Linked DNA regions of Homo sapiens: regions 1 and 3 are each linked to region 2. Evidence: fine-mapped expression QTL. A gene starts in region 2. Each other region holds a variant in brackets. All regions are shown on one strand. Distances are from middle to middle. Region 1 has its middle 170 kb from the start of FAR2. Region 2 holds the start of FAR2 (fatty acyl-CoA reductase 2). Region 3 has its middle 220 kb from the start of FAR2.

Evidence for each region. PIP is the estimated chance that this variant, and not a neighbour inherited with it, causes the effect.
Region 1: its variant is fine-mapped to the expression of FAR2 in whole blood (TOPMed, PIP above 0.99).
Region 3: its variant is fine-mapped to the expression of FAR2 in cerebellar hemisphere (GTEx, PIP above 0.99). The same link has a PIP of 0.9 or more in cerebellum.

The regions. Positions count from the first base shown.
Region 1 is chr12:28,974,840-28,983,028 of GRCh38, reverse strand. No RefSeq gene overlaps it. Among named protein-coding and RNA genes, the nearest start is that of FAR2, 170 kb to the left of the region's middle. The variant G/A (reference allele first, on the strand shown) is at 4,847.
Region 2 is chr12:29,144,316-29,152,504 of GRCh38, reverse strand. FAR2 (fatty acyl-CoA reductase 2) reads right to left here and starts at 3,227. Exons shown (of 12, transcript NM_001271783.2): 1 at 3,098-3,227. RefSeq lists silencers at 2,860-3,009, 3,320-3,379 and an enhancer at 6,301-6,802.
Region 3 is chr12:28,928,359-28,936,547 of GRCh38, reverse strand. No RefSeq gene overlaps it. Among named protein-coding and RNA genes, the nearest start is that of FAR2, 220 kb to the left of the region's middle. The variant C/T (reference allele first, on the strand shown) is at 4,476.

The sequences.
Region 1 (8,189 bases), 170 kb after region 2:
CTCCACTAGGGTTATGCTTGTAAGATATGAGCGCTCACTCCTCCTTTCTCTCTCCACAGGAGGACCGGGCAGCCTTTTCTGGAGAGCAACCTCAGCCAAGGAGCGGATGCCATAATTGCTTTCCCTTTTACCTCACCACTGGGACAGCTCTGAACACTTTATAGAGTTTGCTCCCTCAAGCTTGCATTCCTTACTTCTCATAGAAGCAAAATACTGCATTTCTTTTGATCTCATAGAAATGAAAAGGACTCTCTACGCCATGGCTTTTGGTCTTGGTTTCTGTTTCTTTGAATTTGGCTCCTTGGTGGGGTCCTGGGGATACTTGCACTTCACTATTGTTCAAGCTTTCAACTGAACTTAGAGGTGAATTTAAATCAATCCCCTAACAACAAAGAGATGTGTGTCAGGAGGGGTAGTGGTGACTCAGGGACAGATAAATGTAACTTCTCTAAGGTGTAAAGCCATATACCCTCATTCCCTAGAGGGGAACATATAAAAAGCCACTAGTAGAATGTCTTCTTCTATCAATTTCACCTGTTGATCTAATTGTAGGTAGAGATCCATAAGGAACTCATTGAGGGTTAGGGAGAGATTCGCTACTCAGATACTGATTAGGCAAGAAATGTAACACCAAGTGAAGAAATGGAGTCCAAGAATTTTCCTAATCCTGAAAAAAGTAGGGAGTGTGGAGAGAGGAGTTGATTATATAAAACAGAAGGGCAGATACATTGCAAAAAATGTTAAATTTTACTGCCATATATGTGACATTCAAATTATTTATAGCAGGGAGACCTTTATTTCAAAACTAGCTGTCTGATCTTGAGCAAATTACTTAACCTGGCCAACATATGCTTCTCTAATATGATCAATTAGGAATTATCTGTACTGAACAGTGTTATTTTGTGGATTAAATGGAAATGTAAAAACTGGTTGACATAGTATCTGAAGCATAATGGACTCAGAGAATATTAGTTCTCTTCCTTTCCATGAACTCAACTGTTAAAACACACAAGTGTATATAACAGTTCTATCACTTTATTTATTTATTTATTTTTCAGATGGAGTCTCACTCTGTTGCCTAGGTTGGAGTGCAGTGGCTCAATCTTGGCTCACTGTAACATCCACCTCCCGGGTTCAAGCAATTCTCCTGCTTCAGCTCCCCCAAGTAGCTGGGACTACAGGCGCCTGCCACCACACCTGGCTAATTTTTTTTTTTGTATTTTTAGTAGAGATGGGGTTTCACTGTGTTGGCCAGGCTGAGTCTCAAGCACCTGACCTCGTGATCCGTCTGCCTTGGCTTCCCAAAGTGCTGGGATTACAGGCATGAGCCACCACACCTGGCCCTATCACTTACTTTTGAAGTACCTATTAAATCCTAGGTGCTTCACAGATTTTGCCTACATTTCATCATTTAATTTACTGTATAAATTAATTCATCTTTGTCTTATTCTGTCAGGTTAATGTTATCATTCTCTTTTTACAGATTTATTGAGACACAGAGAAAGCCAAGTAACTTGCTCATAATTTCACAGCTAGTAAAAGGTAGAATCAAGAATTGGAGCCATATACTTTGATACAAAAGTATTATCACACTCTTTTCTTTTCCTAAGCCTGCTGACCAAGCTTGCACAGTTCCCTCTGGGGAAAAGATCTATCGACCTACTTTAGATTTTATCAAAGTGAAAGAGTATTTTTTATTCATTCAATGATCAAGATTGATTTATTTTTCTGAATTACTTCAAGAAACCTTGAGATATCTGATAATCTAGAAAACATCTGGTCATTTCTTCTGTGAGTATCCTGACTACTAAAACTACGTTACTCATTTAGTTTTGCCTGGTTTTAATATATATATGTCTATAAATTAATATATAGATATTATATAATAATATATATACATGCACATATATACACCATGTGATACAGTATATATTCTTTCATATCTGACTTTTTCTACTCAACAATATATTTGTTAAGATCATTTACTCTGTGTGTGAAGCTGTAGTTCATTTGTTTTCAAAGATGACTAGATTTCTCTGGGATGAATATACCATAATGGGACATTGAACAGTTTTTATTTGGGGGCTGTGATGAATAGTGCTGTGATCAATATTCTTGTACTTGTATTTTAGTTCATAAGTCCTTGCATTTCTGTTGGAGTGGAATTACTGGATTATGAGGTATGAACATGCTCAGTTTTAGCAGATACTGCCAGTTTTCCAAAGTGGTTATATGCTTCACACTTCCACCAGCAATGAGTTCCAGTTGTTCCACATCCTCATCAGCAATGTTATTGTGAGTCTTTTTCATTTTAGCCATTCTGGCAAGTGTGTAATGGTATCGCATTGTGGTTTTAATTTGCATTTCCCTGATGACAGTGACGTTGAGCTTTTTTTCTTATGTTTATTGGCCCTTTGTATAACCTCCTTTGTGAAGTATGACTTTGGCTGTTTTTCATCAAATAGGCTATCTTACTGATGCGTAAAACTTCTCTGTACCTTCCGGATAGGAGCCCTTTGTCAGTTTTAAGGATTGTAAATGTCTTCTCTCTCTTAGTGTCTTGCCTTTCCCACTTTCTTAATGGTGTCATTTGAGAAATAGAATTTTTCGTTCTAATATAGTACAATTTATTAATAATTTCTTTCAAGGATAATGATTTTTATGTCCTGATTATGAAATCTTTCCTTCCCTTAGGTAATGAATATACTCTCCAGTAGAAACGTTATTGTTTTGCCTTTCACAAAGATCTACAATCCACCTGAAATACATATTTGCATGTACTCTGACGTAGAGAATGTTTCATTTTGTCCACGTGTATCCAATTGTCCCAGCAGTACTTATTAAAAAGATTATCGTTTTTCCATGGTTGTATAGTGCCACCTTTGTCTTAACTCTATAGTCCACATATGTAGACTCTACTTTTTTTCCCTTGGTTATCTTTGATTCCTTGAGAAAATATCATGCTGTCTTAATTACTATTACTATTTAATGTCCTTAATTATTATTATTATTATTATTATTATTATTTTTTTTTTTTTTGAGAGAGGTTCTCTGTTTCCCAGCCTGCAGTGCAGTGACATGATCACAGCTCACTGCAGCCTCGATCCGGGCTTAAGCGATCTTCCAGGCTTAGGCGACCTTCTGGGCTTAAGAGATCTTCCCAACTCAGCCTACTGAGTAGCTGAGATTACAAACACATGCCACTACACCTGGTTGATTTTTTTGGATGAGGTCTTGCTATGTTGTCCAGGCTGGCCTTGAACTTCTGAGCTCATGCAATCCTCTTGCCTAGGCCTTGTATAGCCCTGGCTTTCTTAAACTTTTGATATAAATTTTAGCAACTTGTCAAGATCCACCAAAATTATTCAAAAAACTCCTTTAGGATGTTGGGGGAATTCCACTAAATCATTAAGATCAATTTGGGGAGAATTGACATGCAACATTATTCATCCTTTTGTTTCTATTTATTTATGCTTACTTTAATGTTTGTGCTATTCCTTGATACATTTCTGTGTAGAGGTCTTATGAGGCTTTATTTAGATTTATTCCTAGGAATTTGGTATTTTGAAAATAACAAATGCCATCTTTAAAATTTAATTTCCGTTTTTATTTGTAGCAATTGAATGCAATATAATTTATATTTTATGTTACTCCTCATTTCAATCAATTTTTCTTAATTTTCCATATGTGCACAAAAATATGTGTATTCAGTAGTGGTTGGACACAATGTTCTAGTGAATTAGTTAAACTGGTTAATCATGTTATCCATACATTCTACACCTTTTCATTTGTTTGTTTGCTTCCAAACAAGCTTTTTATTTACAGATACAAAACAAGACTCTGGCCACAGGTGGCAAGGGCATCCCAGGCTCACCTGCACCAATGCCTTCCTGGCCAGAAAGGGCCTATAGGACCAGAAATGTCAACTCTCCCCCATCCCCTAGTCAAAAATAATTGGAACTCCTACCAGAAGGGTTACCCCAGTTAAAACCTACTGAACCAAGAAGAATGAGACAAACCAAGGGAGATGCCAATGAAAAACCAGTGGCAATCAGGCATGAAGGTGGCAGCTAGCCACTCATACCCCAATGACAGGTCACCTTGGAAAAACTGTCCCCTGTAGGGTTTCCAAGGATGACATCTTGTCCTCCCCCTTGGGTTGGTCCCACTCTTGAAACAAGATAAAACCCTAGAATCTAAAAAATACCCTCATGCCCCCAGAATTCCAAAGCAAACTAAACCCACCCCACCCCATTCTACCCTTGCCCAGAGCATTTTGCTGAAATTAACTTACACATGCCCATCTAACAGGATCCTGTTCTCAGGAGTGAGCCAGTATGTCACATCCTCATATGCTCACCGTACTCCTCTCAGGTCACCCACTCACACGTATAGGTAGAAAGGTGAGCCACCACAGATGCTCCTAGCCAGATGCTAAAGTTTCTTTACTGGCTTTTTTTGCTTGCTATATTTATTTACAGTGTTTATTTATTTAATATTTATTGTGTTATTCACTAATCCACTAATGGATTCTAATGGATTATTTGCTGAGAGTAGTGTGTTAAAATCTCCCCACTATAATTATGAACTCATCTATTTCACTTTCTGTTAAGTGTTTAAAATATATTTTGAGGCTATGTTCCTTGGTGCATAAAACTTATAATTGATATATACATTCCTTGTGAATTAAACATTTTATCATAAGAACATTATCTTTTATAGTACTTTTTTCTTATATAACCTACATTTTTTGATATTGAATAAATTTGTCTGATATATCACCTTTCTTTTGGCTAGTATTTATATGACATAATCTCCCCATTCTTATAGTTGCAACCATTCTGGC[G/A]TTTATAATATGCATTTAATGATTTAAATGCATTGAATATTAATTTACATGTACCTCTTTTCCCTTAAACCATAGTGATTTTCTTTAATTTTCCTCACTATTGACTTGCATGCCTTTATTAGTATGTATATTATATGTATTTATAGTTTACATGTCTTCACCCACATGAAACATTATTATAATTAGATAGTCAAATAAGTTATGTTGATCACTGTATTTACTACTAACTTTGCTACCTTTCCTTCTTCCTTCTTTGAGCTTCCTTTGGAAATTGGTTTCCCTCTAAGAAACCCTTTAGTGTGTGTGAGCAAGAGACAATTATTTTTGTCTGAAATGGCTTTATTTTATTTTAGTCTTAAAGGCTATTTTCTCTGGGTATAGAATTTTAGGTTGGCAACTATTTCTTTATTATTTCACACTCTTCTGGTTTCTATGTTTTCAATTGAGAAGTGTAATTATTGCACCTTGAAGAACCACCTTATTAGCACTTTGATACTTTCAGGCAAACTTTTATAACACATTTGTTGTACAGCTTTTCCAGTTGTCACCAGTGGAAAGATTGAGCTGAATTCTCTACTACTTTATTAATTGAAGAGTTTATTATATTTTTGCCAAGTATGAATGAACCAATGAGTATCAAAAAAAGATCAACTTTGTCTGAAATATCTTTCTTCAGTCATCTTCTTCAAAGGAACTAATGATATAAGTGTCCAACCTTCAGTCTTAATCAGGTTTCTTGATGGGATTCAGATGCATCTAATCATGTGTAGCAGATACATGACTATATTACAGATATCAGTTGCAAAGACTATATTGCAGGTATGCATGAGGACCCTCTTGGAAAAGAGCTTTAATGGAAAGAGTGTCAGCTAAGGCTGATGGAATAACAGGGCCTTCATGGTGAGAGTGGTAGTGACAGTGATAATTTCTTTTCTGTTCTCTTGGATTAGCATTTCCTTCCTTAATCAATCTGAACCTCTACCAAACTTTTGCTTGAGTCCAATGCAATGGGCATATGAAGTGAAATCAATAAGCACTGTTTTCACCAAAATATCTGTTCAATATTAGGTGATAAGCTGGAGTTGTTTTGGAACCCATTTCATAGCTAAATCCAAAAGGGGCAAAGAGATGTTCACTTTGTTTTGACAGGAAATATGGAGCATTTAATGCTCCATGACATGAAAAAAATAACTATGGTAGTGAATACATCCAAGGATGGGTAGCAGCACTACTTCCATGAAAGCACTGGTGATTAGCAAGGATTAGCTGTAATCAGTACTTGTGATTTTGTGGACTATTCAAGCTTTAAAAATACAAACCCTTGAGGGATCTGGAGCTGATGAGAAAAGTGTTGGATGCCACATTATAACTTCAACTGTGGTTCTTAAATGCATCCATACAACCTGGAAAACAGGAATAATGCTGATTTCTGGGGTACATTGATGACGTTCTGGGTTAGTAAGCAAGGCTTTCCAATGAGCTCAGCTAGCTTTTCATGTGAAGTTATAGAAACAATGAAATAGAACCCCCGATGTTCACTACTGGGATGCCAGTATGCTTAGTACATTATGATGACTGTGGTATTTTACCATTAACCAAATAGTCACCACTGTAGGTACTGTCTTCATTCAAAAAAATACTTCTTGTATGGAGTAAGGCCTTCCAAAGCCAGAGCCTATAATCAAAATAATGAAAATAATTCAGCTAAGATTGAAATCAAGACCCTATCTCTTGAAGTTAACCTGTAGAAGTTGTGCTATTTAAGTTAGCATGACCTGTTTTCATGTTGCTCTTTACCATCAATGAAAAAAAAATTTCCATCATATTTCAGCTCCATAAAGCACATAGTCTGTAACAGGCATTGTATTGACACTGCACATGCAATTTCTCATTAATCTTCACCACAGTATTAGAGGATAGGCATTAGAAGAAAACTGAGGCAAAGAGAAATGATCTCAACCATGATTTCAGAGTTGGTAAGTAGCAGTGCCAATGTTTGAAGTCTAGTCTGTCTATACCAAAGACTATGATTCATCCAACCCTCAACACTGCCTCCTCTGATCATGAATACTCGTGTTGGAAAGGAAACACTGTGGTAGGGGATTTCTTTACAGATTAAACTAGGTACATTCACCTCTAACTTTTCCTTGCCTGTATTATCCTTCAGGGCTGGACCATGGCTGTTACAAAAGATGGCTTTTAGGATAGACAAAATTTCATCATAAAAGCACAGGGGAAATTTGAGAAATTCTAACTACGTTTCTGAACACTATGCACATTTCTTCATAACTGTAGGATACATAAATCGAGCATATTTCTTGTCTGTAACAGTAAATATATTTTAAGTTTACAAAGAAAGCTCTTTATCTCAAGAATATAATGTACACAGAGACAAGAGAAGCATTGTTATTGAGGGCAGAAAAATAGAAGCCAATAAAACTATGCCCTAGAGCCAAAAGATATGGATTTATGGGAGTAGAGAAGGAGAAGAAAAGAGGGAGGAATATACAGAGAAAAAGTCACAGAGAGAAAGAGGCAAAAGTGAGTACAGCAAGGAAATGCAATGCAGCCTATGCCTATGGAAGAAGAAGCAGGGATTTAAATATTTGCTCCCTTCTTAGAAGTTAGTGACATGTCAATTAATTTTTCCCATTTATAAGAAGAAGGGAAAATCCTAAGTATTATGTGGGGTTTTCTGTTTGTTCATTTTGAGGATATGTCCTTATATAATTACCATTATATAAGCATTAACCTTTATTTTGGGTGTTCTTTTAAGGCCCAAATAATAAAACTGTCCAATTCTTAGTGGATTTATGATGTCATACGGACATAATTAGAGCTGGATTTCACACAGTGCAAAAAAACTGGAGTCTTCTTTCTTACATCAAAAATGTAAAACAAAAGAAAGAAAACATTAAAAATGTAAGAGAAACCTGGAGTTAAATGTTAACTGAAGTCACCAGCTAATAAACTTGGTCAAGAAATGAGTAGATATTTCTTCTCTTTTTCTAGCCTTATTATGCATTTACTAAAATGACAGTTAGAAGTCTCTATGTTCCTTGACCCTTCCTTTTATGCTGAAGCATATCTTGATGATGCAATATTGATATGATAAATCAACTATGGAATTCAATTTGTTGTTGCGAAAAATCAGAGTGGTAGGTACTTCAAGCTAGGCAAGTGGACTGTTTCCAGAAGTATGTACAGTAAAAGAAATGAAGAGACTAGGTAAAAACCAGGGAAGGCATAATTCTCAGGCTGATTAGAGGCTACAGGTCAAGCTGACACTGTCAACTGTCATGGCCTAACCTTGTTTCATTCTGGTTTTAGTGTTCAAGAAGCG
Region 2 (8,189 bases):
ATTGCCATCATGCTAACAAGGACAGCTGGAATAAAGATAAGTTTTGAGGTCAGAGAGTAGTTAAGGGAGGAGTCTGGGGACAGAGGACTTGCCTGTTTTCTCAGTTCCTCTTTAAGAGGCACCAGAGTTACAAAAGGTCACTAGGTGTATTTGGCAAGAGACTAGGTGTACTTTAAATTGATTTGGCATTTCCTAGGATATTTTAAAGGATGACTTGATCAAACTTTTGAACTTACAGATTTTTTAAATTAAATGAAACAAAAAGGATTACCCCCTCAAAAAATTTCAGTCATTGGCTCATTTTCTCACCGTTCGACGTTTGGATGAATTAGACCCAAACATTAATTTAATTCAATAACTACCTTTGGGATCCAAGAAGTTATTCTGCACCTTTAGTTGAAAATTCTAATTTTGTCCAAATAATGATATTTCAGGAGTATTTAACACACTGAATACTTGCCTACTTTTTGTTTTATTTTCCACCAAACTATAAGGGTCAGAAAGGTTCTACAGTCTTTTCAGTGTGCTCAATCAACCTTCCTCAAGCTACTTCTGAAAAATGGAGGGCAAAGTTTAACCCTTCAACAACAGCATATTTTTTAGAAAAGAACTATTCAAAGCAAGTAGACATTTTTTACAATTATTACCTCTTTTTACTTAGAGATAGTACAACCTTGAAAATAAAGAAAGTAGAAGGTGTCATCTGTTGTCTTTATTTTGTCAATGAGGAAACTGAAATGTAGGAAGACTGAATGACATGTCCAAGAGCACCTAAGTGAGCAGCAGATAAATTTCAGGTTTGTACTGGAGAACTCACCGTAAATGTGGGATTGCTGTTCAAACACTGTTATTTGGTTAGTTTTAGACCAAGTTTGTCAGCCTGGGGTCAGGATATAATTTGTAGGACCCAGTTCAAAATGAAGATCCAGAGCCTCTTTGAAAATTATTAAGCCAGCAGACGGTGATAGCAGAACATTACCAAACGCAGGGCCCTTCCAAGTGCAAGGCCCTGTGCGGTTGCAGTTTTGTATTTCCATGAAGCTGGCCCTGCCTGGAGCCTCTGGACATCTAGAATGTAGGAGGCTGGGCATCAAGGAGGCCATGAACTCCTGAAATTGTAGGTGGAATTTTGTGTTAATATGTATGCATTTGTCTTTCATATTCCATAGCTTTCATCAGATTCTCAAATTGGTCTGTTACCCTCTTCAAAGGTAATACATGTTCCAACAGAGCCTACAATGTCAGAATATATTGGTAGGGACAAGCATGCTGGTGGTCACTGTGCATGATCCTTCACAAGGCTATATTTGTGAATAAGTAAGTTTTCATGAGTGCATGGGAATTAATGCAAAATCAAGGAATTCTTAACACTGATGAGACGTTGCCAGAAACAAATGCACTCAAGAATGCTTCTTCCTCAGGAGATAGGAAAGCAGATGGTGAGATGGTCAAGATGATCATATGCTTTATAAACCCCAAAGTGATACCCTAATATAAGCCATTTTATTTATTTTCAACCTCTCCCTCTTCCTCTGTAACTGGATGTCACATTTTAGCTTCCTTTAAGGAAAGCATATTTTCATTTACTTTAATTTCTCTAATAGCTGTATGATTTACCAACTCATGGTGATTTACATCTCTTTTATAGATAATTATAGCCCAATGTTAGAAATAGGAGTAAGTGAGGAATTTGTTAATACAGCAGGGGCAGAAGCAGCCCTCAGAATTAGGAAAAGAGTACTGTAAAGACGTGGATCCTGAGAAATACTACCGATGAAATATTGACACACGCGTCGGCCTGGTAAAAACCTCATGCCCATCTCCTAGAAGTCTCACACACAAATATCCCTTCTGCGGAAATGCCTGCTCTTGCAGTTTAGGTGGCTGCCTTAAGTTTTTATTTAGTCCCTTGCCCCCCTTTCTAAATTTTGGACTAACTACACCTGTCAGTCAAATCTCCAGCTCTTATAAATGGGAATATACAGAGATGGGTAATTGAAACCACGGGGTAATTCTCAAATTTCCATTTGCCCAGTGTCAAATTTCTCTCAACCTAGCAAACAGAAAAGCACGATCTACCTGAATTCCCTGGTCACTTTTCTGACCCTACTCTGTCCTTGCTCATCACATAATGGGGGCACTTTACGTGATTCAACGAGTGGCCAAACTCTTGCAGATCCAGCGATAACCTTGGTTGCTCACACCACATAACTCAACCGTGGAAGAAATGGTGCCACCGCTGGCAGGTGAGACGCCTTCCTCTGGTTTGTAGGATACGATTGGGCATGAATTGTTTTAATAGACTGAGACTGCCCCGCGGGTAATTCTACTTGCTAGGAGTGTTGAGCAGCCTTCCTGCAAGCCATCTACTCCAGTTGGGAGTCTGCTGGCACCTGCTCCCCTGCACACCCCCAGGATGCCCAGGCCGCAGGAAGATGTCTAAAACTTCCTACAGGGGCAAAGCCCGCCCTGGCCTCACCAGTCGCCCCAGCGCGCGTCAGCCACGACCCCGGCGAGGCCCAGGTGGGAGGGTAGGGACGTGCGCAGCCTGGGGTGGGGCTGGGGGCTGGCGAGGACCTGCTCCGGGGACCAGGACTGGGCGCCCTGGCGGTCCCAGGCACCGGGAGGGGACCTAGGACCGCTGCCGTTTCACACGTGGCCCCGGCATTTTCGCGCTCTCTCCAGGAATAGCCCCAAGGGCCCAGGAGGCCTGGGTGGGACTCGGCCCCGCGCCTCTCTTCCCGGGTCCCCAGTCCCCAAGGCGCGGCCCCCCACATTAACCTTGCTGGGTCCTTCCCGGCTTTCTGCCCTTTGCAACCCCCGCGCGCCCCACCTTGGCGGGCTCCGCCGACGCCAACCGCGCGTAAACGGCCGGTGACGATTGGGGTGCAGCCGGGGGCAGCTTCAGGGGGCAGAGCCTCCGCAAATGCTTCTCTCCTCCCACCCGGCCTCACACCCACCCTCCTCGAGGTCCCGCCGGGAACCGCCCCGCCCTGCGAACCCAGCCGAGCCCTCCCTCCTGGGCCACCCCCAGTCCGGTCTCTGCTTTTGGAGCGCGTGGGCTCTGCGAGCGCCAGGGCTGGGGACCCTGGAATACCTGTTCCTCCAGCACGAGGATGGGGTCCAACTAGTGGTCCTCTAAATCCTGCTCCTTCCCCGAGGCTACGGGAAGCGCTCCAGCCACAAGGAAACGGCTCCAGTCTTTCGGCTCCCAAACGTGACACTCTATATATCCGGCTCGGAGACTGGGTGTGGGGCGGGAGGAAACCACCCTCCCTCCGACCTTCCCCGGCTCCGCCGCTGCCTCGGCACTGGGCGCGAAACCGGCGGCAGCCTCAGCCCGGGGCGGGAGGAGGGTGAGGGGCCAGCGAAGGCCCTACAGGTCGCGGGGGCGACAGCATCGTGGGCAGGGCGGCCGCGCGCGCAGGCCCGCCCCGCGCTTCCATTCGTTCAGCACCAGCGGATCCACTGGCTATGACTCCCGCATTTGTGTGGTTTGGGGGAGGGGAGTTGGTTTTGGTTTCGGTGGGTTTGGTTTGTTTGTTTGTTTGGGGCTTTTGTTTTGTTTTGTTTTGGGTTTTGGGGTTGGTTTTTTTCTCCATTTTTTAATCAGTGGGCGAGGGGACAAGGAAGCTAGAAAGGCGCCCCTCTCTGGTGTGGGAAAGGAGAACTCCCACACCGTGAAAGGTGGCGGGGTAGGGGGGTGGAGGGAGAGACCGAGACAGGAGAGAGATTCAAAGGTTCTAGTCTGAACTGAACGCTTGGGGGACATACCTTTCCCCACCCACCCTAGCAGAAAAGGCAGCCAAAAATCCCAGTTTACTCAGCTTGACTACACTGCACATCCCGTGGGAGGGATGCTCTTGTATCTGCTAAAGACATTGCGGAGGCGCCCTGCAGTGACCCACGAACGCAGTGGCTTTTTAAAACCCAAGGGCGTGAGGGTGGAGGGTGATGCGAGGACTTCAGGTGAGGCTTCCTCACACTCGGGGTTTGAAGGGCAGAAATCCGGCTCTGCCTGCCTATGGTGGGGTGGGGGTGGGTAGGAGACTAGAAAGGATCAGAGATGGGGGCCGCAGAAACAGCAGTGAGCCAGCTGTGCTCAGCAGCACTTCTCCGGACTTAAAAGAAAAAAAGATGTTTCATTTCTTAGCCTGGTAGCTTTTTTGGGATTTGGTCATTGTTAAATTTTAAACGGAAAAACAAGCTGCCAGGGAAGCCTTGTAGAGGGATGGACAGGCACGTGAGTGGAGCCCTTGGCCTCAACCAGGAAGTGCTGAAAAACGGCCAACGCCCATCCTAATTCCCTGGACAATGTAGGAGGTAAATTTCCAAATAAATATGGTGTGTTAAGAAAAATAGAAAAGAAATATTGTCCTATAAGCTGTTCTGATTCTCCTCATTATAACAATCCACATGCAATTAAAGAAATAAAATTTGACTTTTGAAAGTTAGAATTAAGGAGTGATTTCATGAAATTAAAATAATAACACCCATCTTGAATTCTCTACTACTGGGCTCTTTAATGAAATGTGTTAAGCTAAGTGTAGCCTAAAGGCACTGACTAATTTCCTCTGGTGACCGCCTGAATGCAAGAGACAGAAAAAAAGTTACAACCAAATTTATAGTATTTTTCGTTACCCCTCCCCTCCTCAAGAATAAATTTGAATGTATCTTCAAAATGTGTGTGACAGCACTTCAAATGATAATGTCAAATGCTGGTGAAAACGTATAGAAATCACTTAACAGATAGCAGATGGAAGGTAAATTGTAATCACGCTTTTGTTGGAAAGCAATTTAGCAACACATTCCCAAGGTGTTCAGTAACGAAATTTTTTCTTGTTCTGGACCTAGATTCCCATGTCTTACAATGTATTCAAAGGAGATAATCCATAAAAGAGAAATGCCGCATGTACATAGTTGCATATTTATTACCGAGTTGTTTATAAAGTAGGAAATTAAAAGCATACTTTCAGTGGGATGTTCATAGATAAAATACAACATTAATTATAGATTACAAAACCACAATTTGATTATCACCATTTAAAACGCTATTCATATATGTAGAATGTATTAGTTTGCTAAGGCTGTCATAAGGATGCACATAAACTGGGTGGATTAAACTATAGAAATGTATTATTTCATAATTCTGGAGGCTAGAAGACCAAGATCAAGATGTCTGCAGGGTTGGTTCCTTATGAGGGCTTTGAGAGAGAATTTTCCATGATGCTTACCTACTTCCAGTGGTTTCTTGTTGGCTTGTAGACACATGACCCCTGTCTCCTATAATCTTCATATGGCATTCTCCCTATGTTCATGTCTGTGTCAAAATTTATCCTTTATAAAGATACCAGTCATATATGATTTAGAGCTCACCTTAATGGCCTCATTTTAACTTTACTAATTAAATTTGCAACAACCCTATTTCCCAATAAGGTCACATTCTAGAGTACTGGGAGTTAGGACTTCAATATGTGAAACTGGCAGGGGCGGAGAAGAACGCAGTTCCACCCATAACAGATAATAACAAAAAGAGGCAATGTAGTGGGTTGAATAGTGGCCCCAAAAGATATGTCCTGAGGCAAATCCCCAGAATCTGTGAATGTGACCTTATTTGAAAAAAAGACTCTATATTTAACTAAGTTAAATATGTTGAGATGAGATCATCCTGGGTTATCCAGATGAGTCCTAAACCCAATGGCAAATATACTCACATGATAAAAACAGAGGGAGATTTGAGATACACACACACTGGAGAAGGTGATGTGAATATAAGGCGGAGACAAACTGGAGCCACGTGGAAGCCAGAGAAGCCAAGAAATGCCAACAGCCACTAGCAGCTGGAAGGGGCAAAGAAGGATTCTCCCCCGGAACCCCTACAGGGAGCATGGCCTCAATCTTAATTTCAGTTTGCTAACCTCCAAAATCATGAGAGAATAAATTTCTGTGTTTTAAGCCACCCAATTGATGTTAACTTTGAAAGGAGTTAGCCAGCTTGCTTTAGGCAGACAGTAAGGAAGGGTCCCCAGAGAACCTCCAACCCATGTTTTGTGCAGATAAGGGAACTTGCATAGAGGACTTACCTAAACATGCCTTCAGAGGACTAAGGACCCACATGCACACTGGAAGAATGGGGTGGAGCTACCAGGAATTTGTGCCTTATACAAATAGGGAACTCAGCCTTATCAGCTTGTATGTAAAACCCCTTGTATTCAACTGTAAAGGGGGCAACTAGGAACCTGCTTTCAGGACCCCCTCTTTGCTTAGAGCTTTCCTTTTACTTAATAAATTCTACACCACTCACTCTTTGAGTGTCTGCATGCCTAATTTTTCCTGGTTATGAGACAAGAACACAGATCTAGCTGAGCTAAGGACAAAAAAATCCTGCATCAGTTTGCGTGCTCGCCTGGGATACCTGGAGAAAGAGTAAACAAAGACTGTCCCAAACCTTTCTCTTTCCTTTCTGTGCCTTCTTGTCCTCAGACTTTTTCTGAAGGCAGATGCAGCACGGAACCTCTGGTGAGCCAATTAAGAATGAATGGCACAGCTACAGAGGACAGGATGCTGGAGAGGAACCCGACACCACCCCTCCATCATTCTTGGGGGTTGGGAATGTCGGCCTCGTTCCAATCCAATCTTTTCTATGGCATTTTCCTTCTTTTTTGGGGGATTGTCACGGTGCCTATCTCTTCTTTTATAATGTTAAGGGTATTATTACACGCTGCACAGATATTACTAGGTAGAGTGAGCCTTTGGCCCAGTCATCAGATATGCAATTCAGAACAACGTGATTTCTGTTCGTTCTTACAGGCATTCCACACCCCCACCTCAATGGTTAGGGGTGTACATATGGGACACACAGGCAAGCAATGACTCCCTGACCACCCCCCCCATGCCCCCTGCTGGGGCACATGGCCAAGTTGGCCACATGCGCATGCTCTGTCCAATGGCCAGGCAGGGCAGGAATGAGCCTTGGGTCCCAAGGCAGTCTCGGAGGCCAAAGTCCCCACACAGCTGGCTGGAGAGCTGGCCAGCGTTTCCCATTCACTGCCCCCTCCCGCCACATGAAGTCTTCCTCCCCTGGCTGAGCCAAGAAGAGGGTTCAACAATTAAGAGTTTTTCTCCCTGTTAGAAGAACCCATTTGCATAAAGCAAGAGGTTTTTTTCTTCCTTTTTTTCCCCTGCCCCAAACCATCCTCCCCACCCTACACTTAAGCTATTTTATTTTCCCCCTTTTCTCCACCATGTCAGGAGGTAGGTTTCTTTTCCTTTCGGACGACATCTTATTAGGCCCAGACCCCTAAACACGAGACACTCTTTTCTCTCCCTCGTTTGAGGAGGAAGCAGCTCCACAGCTTTTCCTTAGCATGATGAATTCCTGCCAATTAGGCCCCCTATCATTTCATGGATGGAGGTCATGCTAGTATCCATGGCATAAATGAGGTCTAGGGAACTCAAAGCTTACCAAAAACAGGGAGGAGGCAGCACATGGCTAAATGCAGGTAATTATCACCACCTAGGCCTCCCTGTTAATATGGGGGGAAAAGCAGCATTGGCACCCATGGGCAGCACCCTGTTGAGGTTACTGGGACTTGGGGATATGAAGATGGAAGAAGGAAGGGGGGCCTCTTCTCTCTCTCCCTCACATACCCTGGATATTTCGCAGAAAGAAAAAAGGACTAGGGACGCCTTGTTCCCCTCTTCCTAGATGGGTAACCAATAGTTTTCAATCTATCAGGAGTCTTGAATACCTCCTGAATCACTGGGACTCCTCTGGAAAAAAAAAAAAAAGAGATAACTTCTTTTTTCTTTTTCCTCCTCTGTCCTCTCTTCACAGATGGGTAATTGTGTCCCTGTAACACAGGACGCTTTCCTCGGATGCATCCCCCAAACTGGGAAAAATTAGTTTCCTCAAACCTTAAACTGCTTGGCTTAAAATTGATCTTGGAGGAGGGGAACCCAGAAGGCTGACATGCTGGCAAAAAGTAAAAGTTCTTACCAGTCAGACTTTTGGCCTGTCTCTCCCTGTGCAAACTGGTAACATAAATGGTAAAGGTCACTGTTTACATCCTCTGTAACATTTTGATTAATGGAAAAAAGGATTTATGAGGCCAGTCTTGGGCTATAGGCAATCTGGTGAGCGTTGTGTGTGTCTTTCTGTATGGTTTTGTCACATGGAGGAATGCCTT
Region 3 (8,189 bases), 220 kb after region 2:
ATAATGAGAAGTGACAGAAGGCTTCAAGCCACAACTGGCTCTATGAAGACCACATTATTCCACTCTTCAGAATCCTCTGGCCGATTTCCACTGTTCTCCAAATAAGGCTGAAATTCTGCCAAGGGAACAAAAGCCTACACAAAGTGCTCTCCTTCCTCACCAACTCCATCTCCTCCTGCTCTGTCTCCCCCTTTCTGCTCCAGCTACTGTGACCTTCTTGCTGTTTCTCTAGCAAACCAAACCTACCACAGCCTCTGGGCCTCTGCACTGGCTTTCCCTGCTGTCTGGCAGGCTCTGCCCTAGATATGCACCTGGCTTCCTTCCTCATTTCATCCAAGTTTCTGCTTAAATGTTACGTCCTTATAGAGGCCTTTCCTGATTCACCTTATCCAAAATAATTTCCCACTTTTACTCTCCCACACCAGATAGTCTCTATTGCTTTAGTTTTATTCAAAATATTTATTATTACCTAAATCATAACGGTGTGTTTATTTACTTATTGCTTACTTCCTACGAGAACGTAATATCCATGAAACAGGTTTCATGCTTTTCTTTTCTATGCTGAATATTTAGACCCCTAGAACAATGGCTTGCTCATAGTAGTGTCTCAATAAATATTTGTTGAACAAATTGATGAATATCCCAAAATAAGACCTATAAAGACAATGTCCAGATTGGGCTCTACATCACAGAGCCAATATTAGCAGCCAAAGAGTATCTTGACAAAACAACAGTGAGAAGGGAGGGGCGGGGGCATCTAGGGAGCAAGGTCTGGGTATACAAACAACCCAGGCCAGAAACAGAAGAAGGCTCTCCCAGGGGAGAAGAAATGCAGGTTGTGAAAGCAGAAATCTAAGACATTCATTTCAAGAGTGGAAAAAGAGAAGACTATTGACTGGTGATTGTGAGAATAATATTAGGATGACAAGCAACCCAGCTTAGGGCATTCTGGGACCCATGAGGAAGAATTAGAGTTGGGTTAGGTTTCCCTATTTTTTTTTTAAAGAAATGGGGTCTTGCTCTGTCATCCAGGCTGGAGTGAGGGGTACCATCGTAGCTCACTGCAGCCTAGAACTCCTGGGCTCAAATGATCCTTCCACCTCAGCCACCTGAGTAGCTAGGACTTCAGGCATGTGCCACCACACCTGGATAACTTATAATTTTTTTTTTTTTGGTAGAAACATGGTCTTACCATGTTTCCCAGGCCTGCCTTAAACTCCTGGGGCTCAAGTGAACCTCCTGCCTCAGCCTCCCAAGGTGCTGGGATTACAGGTATATGCCACCGTTGCTGCTCCTGGCCTAGGCTTCCCCTCTTCTGACGGTGGGGGCTGAATCAGAATTATGTTGATTGGTTAATAATAGCCCCACTCTGTGCTGAAACCAGTGTGGTCAGGAAGACATGGTCCCTCACAGAAAAATCTCAGGTCCCAACTGTGACACCTTTTTTATTACAATATAGTTCAACAGCGTGATTTGAAGGTTCTTTGAACTACTGTGATTTTATGTCAAGCCGAATGCTGGAAGTTAGTCTATTAAAGCTCTTTACATCGTATTCTAAACATCAAAACATGGTAACCACATTCTAAAAATTTGTTTTTGAGAAATGAGAACCCCTACTGAGCCACATAAGAACATCTACTAGTCTTACTAGCTTGTGGAATCACCTTTGCATACATACTTTAAGACAGCAGAGTAGGGATGGGTCTTCTTGATGTTATTTATCAAACAGCCATCAACAGTGAAGACTCAGGGCACAGCTAAAAATATAAATAAGTTACTTGACACCCCAAATTTGAGACACAAGCAACTAGATATAAATCTCTTTTCTCTATGAAATAAAGTACTGATAAAACCAACAAAAAGGGGACCTGAGAATGAATATTTTCAACCCCATATATTTTCAAATACAATGAATGCATATTTACTCAGAAGAAATTACCTACAGACAAAAGAGCATCTAATTAGCAAATTTTAGTTTTAAAAACATGTTTTAACTTTGGGATGTTTATAGGCAAGTTTGTTTATCTAAAATAAAACACACCGCATTGAATGTCCTAAAGTTACTACAATGTTAATTCATTTAGTACTCGGCCTGACTAACGCGTATCAGTTGAATAAGTCTTGGCAGTATGCAAGTGGAAGAGATTGAAATAGATACTATCATGATTTATAAACAAAAAGGAGACTGACTAATGTTACATGAATCTATTCACACTTGAGAGTGCCAAGGTTTTTAAGTTACAGTGCCAATCTCCATGATAGTGAAATAATAGACACAAACTGCCCTGGGTTTCATTCACCCATATAAATGAGGTGGGATCTCTGCAGGTGCAGGTGTGCGCGGCAGGAGTACACATATGCCCACAATATCAGATTCTCACTCCGCCCATGCAGGTGAGGTGTGGAACGACAGAAATATTTTGGATGCTCTCCTCAAAACTGATGGAACACAGACCCAGGAAAAGGCCTCCATCACCACAATGTAACCATTCCATGTAGAGGCATGTAATTGGGATGGGCTCTGGAAGTGGATTTGAAGTAAATGTTAGTGATTCATCCAGGACTGTAATTTCTAATTTAGGAGAAACACAGGTGCCTGAGTTTATAACAGATCTCTCTTCTGAAACCTCCAGCTATGCACTGCTGATTTGTTACAATGGTAGAGGTCCTGAAATGTTCTCTTTAAAATATAGATGACTTGGAGAAGGGGCTGATTCTAAAATTGGGGCAGGAAAAATCCAAGATGAGCTCAGATCATCTTGTATCACAAGTACGTAAGGTAGTACACAAGTATTGGATCATCTATATTATTAATAAGTGTCCCAGGTGATGCTAAGCTCATCAGTTCTGAACCCTATTTTGACAAGACTGCCTTAGAAAAACCACCACAACATTTTATCTTTCAGTAAATGGTTGAGGGATATGAAATGGTGGTGTTTCCCAGGTTAAAGTCAGATTAACTGCACTACCAAGCAGTTTCTAAAGTACATCTGCCCTTAAGTTGAGTTGACTTGCATTATTTATGGACCATTTAGACAAAATTGATGTTTCTTATAGTTTATCAAACTACTGAGTGTTTCTCAGGGTAAGGAATGTGCTACCAAGATAAATAATGGAGGCCACAGAGCATTAGCTATGGTCTATATAGAAGCATAACCCAACCTCCCTGACAGCTATAACCCTACCCTATAAAGCAAAGGGAGCGAGTGAGCTCACCCAGCCTTTCCTTCCCTCTATTGTTGAATTTCCTCTTTTGCTGGTTCTGATATTTTCCTTTTTCATGGATTATTCTTTCATTTTAGTAAAGCATATCCACTAAAAGTCTCTTGAGAAAAAAAATGCATGGGAGGTAAGTAATTTGCAAACTTCCATGTCTGAAAATGATTTCACTTGTATCCACATATTTGATTGATAGTTGAAGTATCAAATATTTTAAGATAAAATAATTTAACTAAAGTTTAAAACTTTCCCGACAATGTTTAGTGCCTTGCCTTGCCATCTTTCATCTATCAGTTTTGCTGGACAATAAGCCATGCTTATTTTCTACTTTCTCCTTTCTTTATAGCTCATTCCTTTCTCTGAAAGTCTTTAGGATCTTCTTTTTGTCCCAGGTATTCTATAATGCATGTTGTTATGTGCTTGGCTGTTGGTATTTTCCACTCATTTAGCTGGAATCTCATGTTATTTTGTTCTGGGAAGCTTTCTCCTATTTTTAAAACATAATTTACTGTCTTCTATTTTTCTGGTCCTTTTTTGGGATTCCTGGTCATTAGATATTGAGTCTCTTGATTTGATGATACAGGAGTTCTCATAGCTTATCTCATGGGACACATATGGTTCCTGTCTATAAGGAGTTCACATATGTTCAATTTTTTTTTCTCTGTCACCCAGGCTGCAGTGCAATGGTAATGGTGTGGTCTCGGCTCACTGCAACCTCTACCTCCCTGGTTCAAGCGATTCTCCTGCCTCAGCCTCCTGAGTAGCTGAGACTACAGGTGCATGCCACCACACTTGGCCAATTTTTGTATTTTTAGTAGAGAGGGGATTTCACTATTTTGGCCAGGCTGGTCTTGAACTCCTGACCTCGTGATCTGACCGCCTCGGCCACCCAAAGTGCTGGGATTTTATAGGCGTGAACCACTGCACCTGGCCAGTCATCTTTTCTATTATTATATTTATGAGTCTTCTTAGAAATTTATGTCCTTGATAGTTGTCCAACAAATGTTAACCTTAGTTCAGCTTTAGTCAATGTGGATTGTTTTTTCTTTCTTTCTTTCTTCTTCTTTTTTTTTTTTTTAACCAGGAAACTGATGTTGGAGAGAAAAAGAATGTTTGACTTAATGATCTTGGTGGGGTCCTTTTCATAGCAATTCAATTGTTAGAGTTCATCTAGATGTAATCTTAGTCTTAAATCAGTTTCCTGGTAACTGGGTGAAGACTCATTTAGTGTCAACAGCATGCTTAAATGATCCTAG[C/T]GGCATTATTTCAAGCTCTCATGTATTTCACTTGGTAACCATTAGAAGAATCAATCAGTCCTTGGCTTATCAAATGAGATTAATTATGGCCAAAAATGAGACCACAGTGAAGTCAACTAAGCATCAGCTTTAAAAGTGTTGTTTCTAAAGGCAATAGCTAGCTTTGCTCTTTGAATATTGGACAACTTCAGAGTCAGGCATTTGAAATGCCAAATTTTAAATACATGTGTGTAGTGGTGTTGACTTCCCAACATAATGCTAAATATGGTTCATTTTCACTTTCTTGATATTTTGACCTCTAGTGTAGACTACACCATCTTCCTGTGTTACACATAGACTAGGCTAGGGTTTGCCTTCAACCGTTCATTATCTTGATGTCTTCTTGGGAAACTTTGGGATATTAAGCCACTTCAGATGGGTTTGACTATATTTGCTATAGCATCAGAAGGTGCTATTACCTATCATTCTTTTTTTTTTTTTTTTTTTTGAGACAAAGTCTTGCTTTGTCACCCAGGCTGGAGTGCAGTGGCCCGATCTTGGCTCACTGCACCCTGTGCCTCCCAGGTTCAAGCGATTCTCCTGCCTCAGCCTCCCAAGTAGCTGGGATTACAGGTGTACACCACTACTCCTGGCTAATTTTTGAATTGTTAGTAAAGACGGGGTTTTGCCATGTTGACTAGGCTGGTCTCAAACTCCTGAACTCAGGGGACCCACCCACCTCGGCCTCCCAAAGTGCTGGGATTAGAGACATGAGCTGCCACACCCGGTCCTACCTATCATTCTTTTTTGATTTTTTAACATATCTTTCATGATTACTATCATGCCTAAAATCATCTTCTCTGGATATCTCATATGTTCCTTTCTTCCTAAATGTTGATTATTTTAGGTATCCCTGGGCCTAAGTTGCAATAAAATTTTCTGGAAGGCAGGCAATATGTACTATTGTTATAATGCCATTCAGTAATATCTGCTTTATCATTTATTTTCATTTCATTTTCATTCCTTTTTTCTTTTTTTGTCTTCTTGTAATACGGCCTAGTGGAACTAGCACGGACTTGAGAATCAGACAGACTTGGATTCATGAATCTACCACTTGTCCTGGCTTTGTGACCTTGATTGGGCTAACTAATCTTTCTAAGCTTAAAGCTTTAAAAGTGACCAAATATGCTGATTTTGCAAAACTGTTACCATGATTACATAATAAAATGAATCTCATCTTACTAATATGTAATTAACATGTGTAATTTTGAATAACATGATTCTACTAATTAGGGTGTTTTTCAAACCTTGTTGTTCACCAAAATCACCTGAGACACTTACAAAAAAATACAAATGCCCAAGCCTCAGTGATTCTGACTTGATCAATCTGGGATAGGGCCCAGACAGTTGTAATTTTTAAAGGTCGTAGGTAATCCTAATGTATAGCCAGCACTGAAAACTATCTGATGAGAATTCAGTGAATGACAGCAATCATCATTCTAAGATGATGATGAAAAACTTCTTAGGAAACATACAATGGTGACAATTCTTAAGCCACCACAGGGAAGATGAGAATCTATGGGCTACAAAAATAATCACCTTATTTTCACATACCTGTATGATTTGCAGTGCTAGAGAAAGAGTCATATGGGGTTTTCCTTGTTTCCTCTATACCTACAAAGACCCTTGAACATGGCTTTATAGATCCTGGAGAATAAGTAGACACCAGTTGTCTTAATACCAGCAAGATTTAAAAGAAACATATATTTTAAAGTAGTTATTACTCAGGCATACTCCACCTATCCTCATATATAAAATTTGATGTGAAATTAAAGAAAAAAATCCCTTGAAATAAGTCAAATAACTATTAAATGTAAATGTACAGATATGCTGAAATTTTTTAAAAAATTATTTCTTTATAAAATTTCAAAAGGGAAACAAGTTTGGAAAACTTTAATATGGGTACTAAAGAAAGTTTTAACCTATTTTAAGATAAACAAAAGTCAAAAGTTTTTCATCATCTTATTTGGAAGAACATGCACAATTATGGTTTTTGCTTTCAGTCTAAAACAACCCATAAATCTCATAGCAGTTTGTTACTAGTATTGAGGGATCCATAATTAAGTTATTCCACACTTAAAAGGTAACTCTAGAAAGTAAGTCAAAATAAACATTTTAGCATGCTAACAAAACCAGAATAGGGGTAAGGCCACCAGGGAAGAATAATGGCCTGACTTCTTTTGCAGCTTGTCCAGAGGTCTGAATACAAGGAACATTAATATACCCTATTATGTCAAAAGTAAATAACATTATTATTCTATTACTGATCATAATTTTTCATTGCACTGGAAGAGGCTGTATAAACAACAAAAATAACCACTTAAAGGAAATAGTGCAATGTTTGGAAATGTAAGATAGAAAATTTGCAATAGAATATTTGTTCCAGAATATTTATATAAAGACGCATCAAAGGATAATGGTATATCCTGGTGGTTTTTCCCATGAAACGGAACTAACATGGTATTAACATATTTTATACTATTACAGAACACCAAACAGTTGCTAGGCACTGTGATAAGTGCATCATCTTATTCAATTTAATTTTGACTCATAATAACTTAAACATTATTATCTTTGTTTTACCATTGAGGAAACTGAGCTCAAAGAGATTAGGTCCTTGCTATTCAAAGTGTGGTCCACCACCAGCAGCAGCAACAGCAAAGGCATTGCCTGGGTACCTAAAAGAAATGGTGCAAGGATAGGCTTTTCCCCAGAACTCTTGGTTGGCATTAACAGTTTAAGGAGATCTCCAAGTGATTCTTATGTGAGAGTAGCACTGGTATAAGTGAGTTGCCCAAGGTCATGCAATTAGCTGCCTCTGAATTTAGCTTAGTCACTGTTGATATAAGGCAGGCTCTAAAATGTGTACCCTAGGAAGTAAATGATACGTGCTATTTTTTATGAAGGTAAGGCTGTGAAAATGAGTATCGTGCAGGGCACTCATAGGTCAACCCAGAATGAAGGAGGATAACAAGGGTTGTGTACTCCACAGGTATGAGTGTGAGATGCATCCCTCTGCATTCACAGCAATGGGGGTCTTCTGCCCTGACTCTAAGGAACAAATTCCATCAGCTTCTCCAACTACCCAAAGTGTCCACGCCTCAAAGTTTCCATCCCCTCTCCACTCCATACACAGGCATAAGAGCATTATCTTTGATGGGGTCAGGGGAGGAAATGCTCCACTTTCCCCTTGCTGTCATTGTCATCACCATCTCTGACTGTCCTCTGAGCGTGGGAGTTAGCTCACGTTCCTATAATGAAGTCCCTCATAGAACAGCAACACTTGTGGGATTCCCTAACAATTGAAGATATTTCTTATTATAGTTCTCCAACTTTTTGTAGAGGTAAAGCCCCCTCATTTATGTCTGGGAATCCCTATGGGTATCTCATGTGTGTTCAGTTAAGTCCTGTCAGCTACCACTTGGTACCCTCTGTTTTTCTCTCCCACCTCTGCCTGCACAATTTTCCTATTTCCAAATCCCTTCACTGTATCCACAGACACTGCTCTTCAGGCACTCACAACTGTGGCTTTTCCTGAGAACTTCTCTGCCACCAGGCAGCCACCAACACAGTAATCCTGGAAGTGCTTTGGAGATCAAGGCTGCTATAACTTGTGCAGCATGCAGGAAGAAAGGCACTGTCCCTTCGGGGACATCACTGGGGAACTCATAGCAA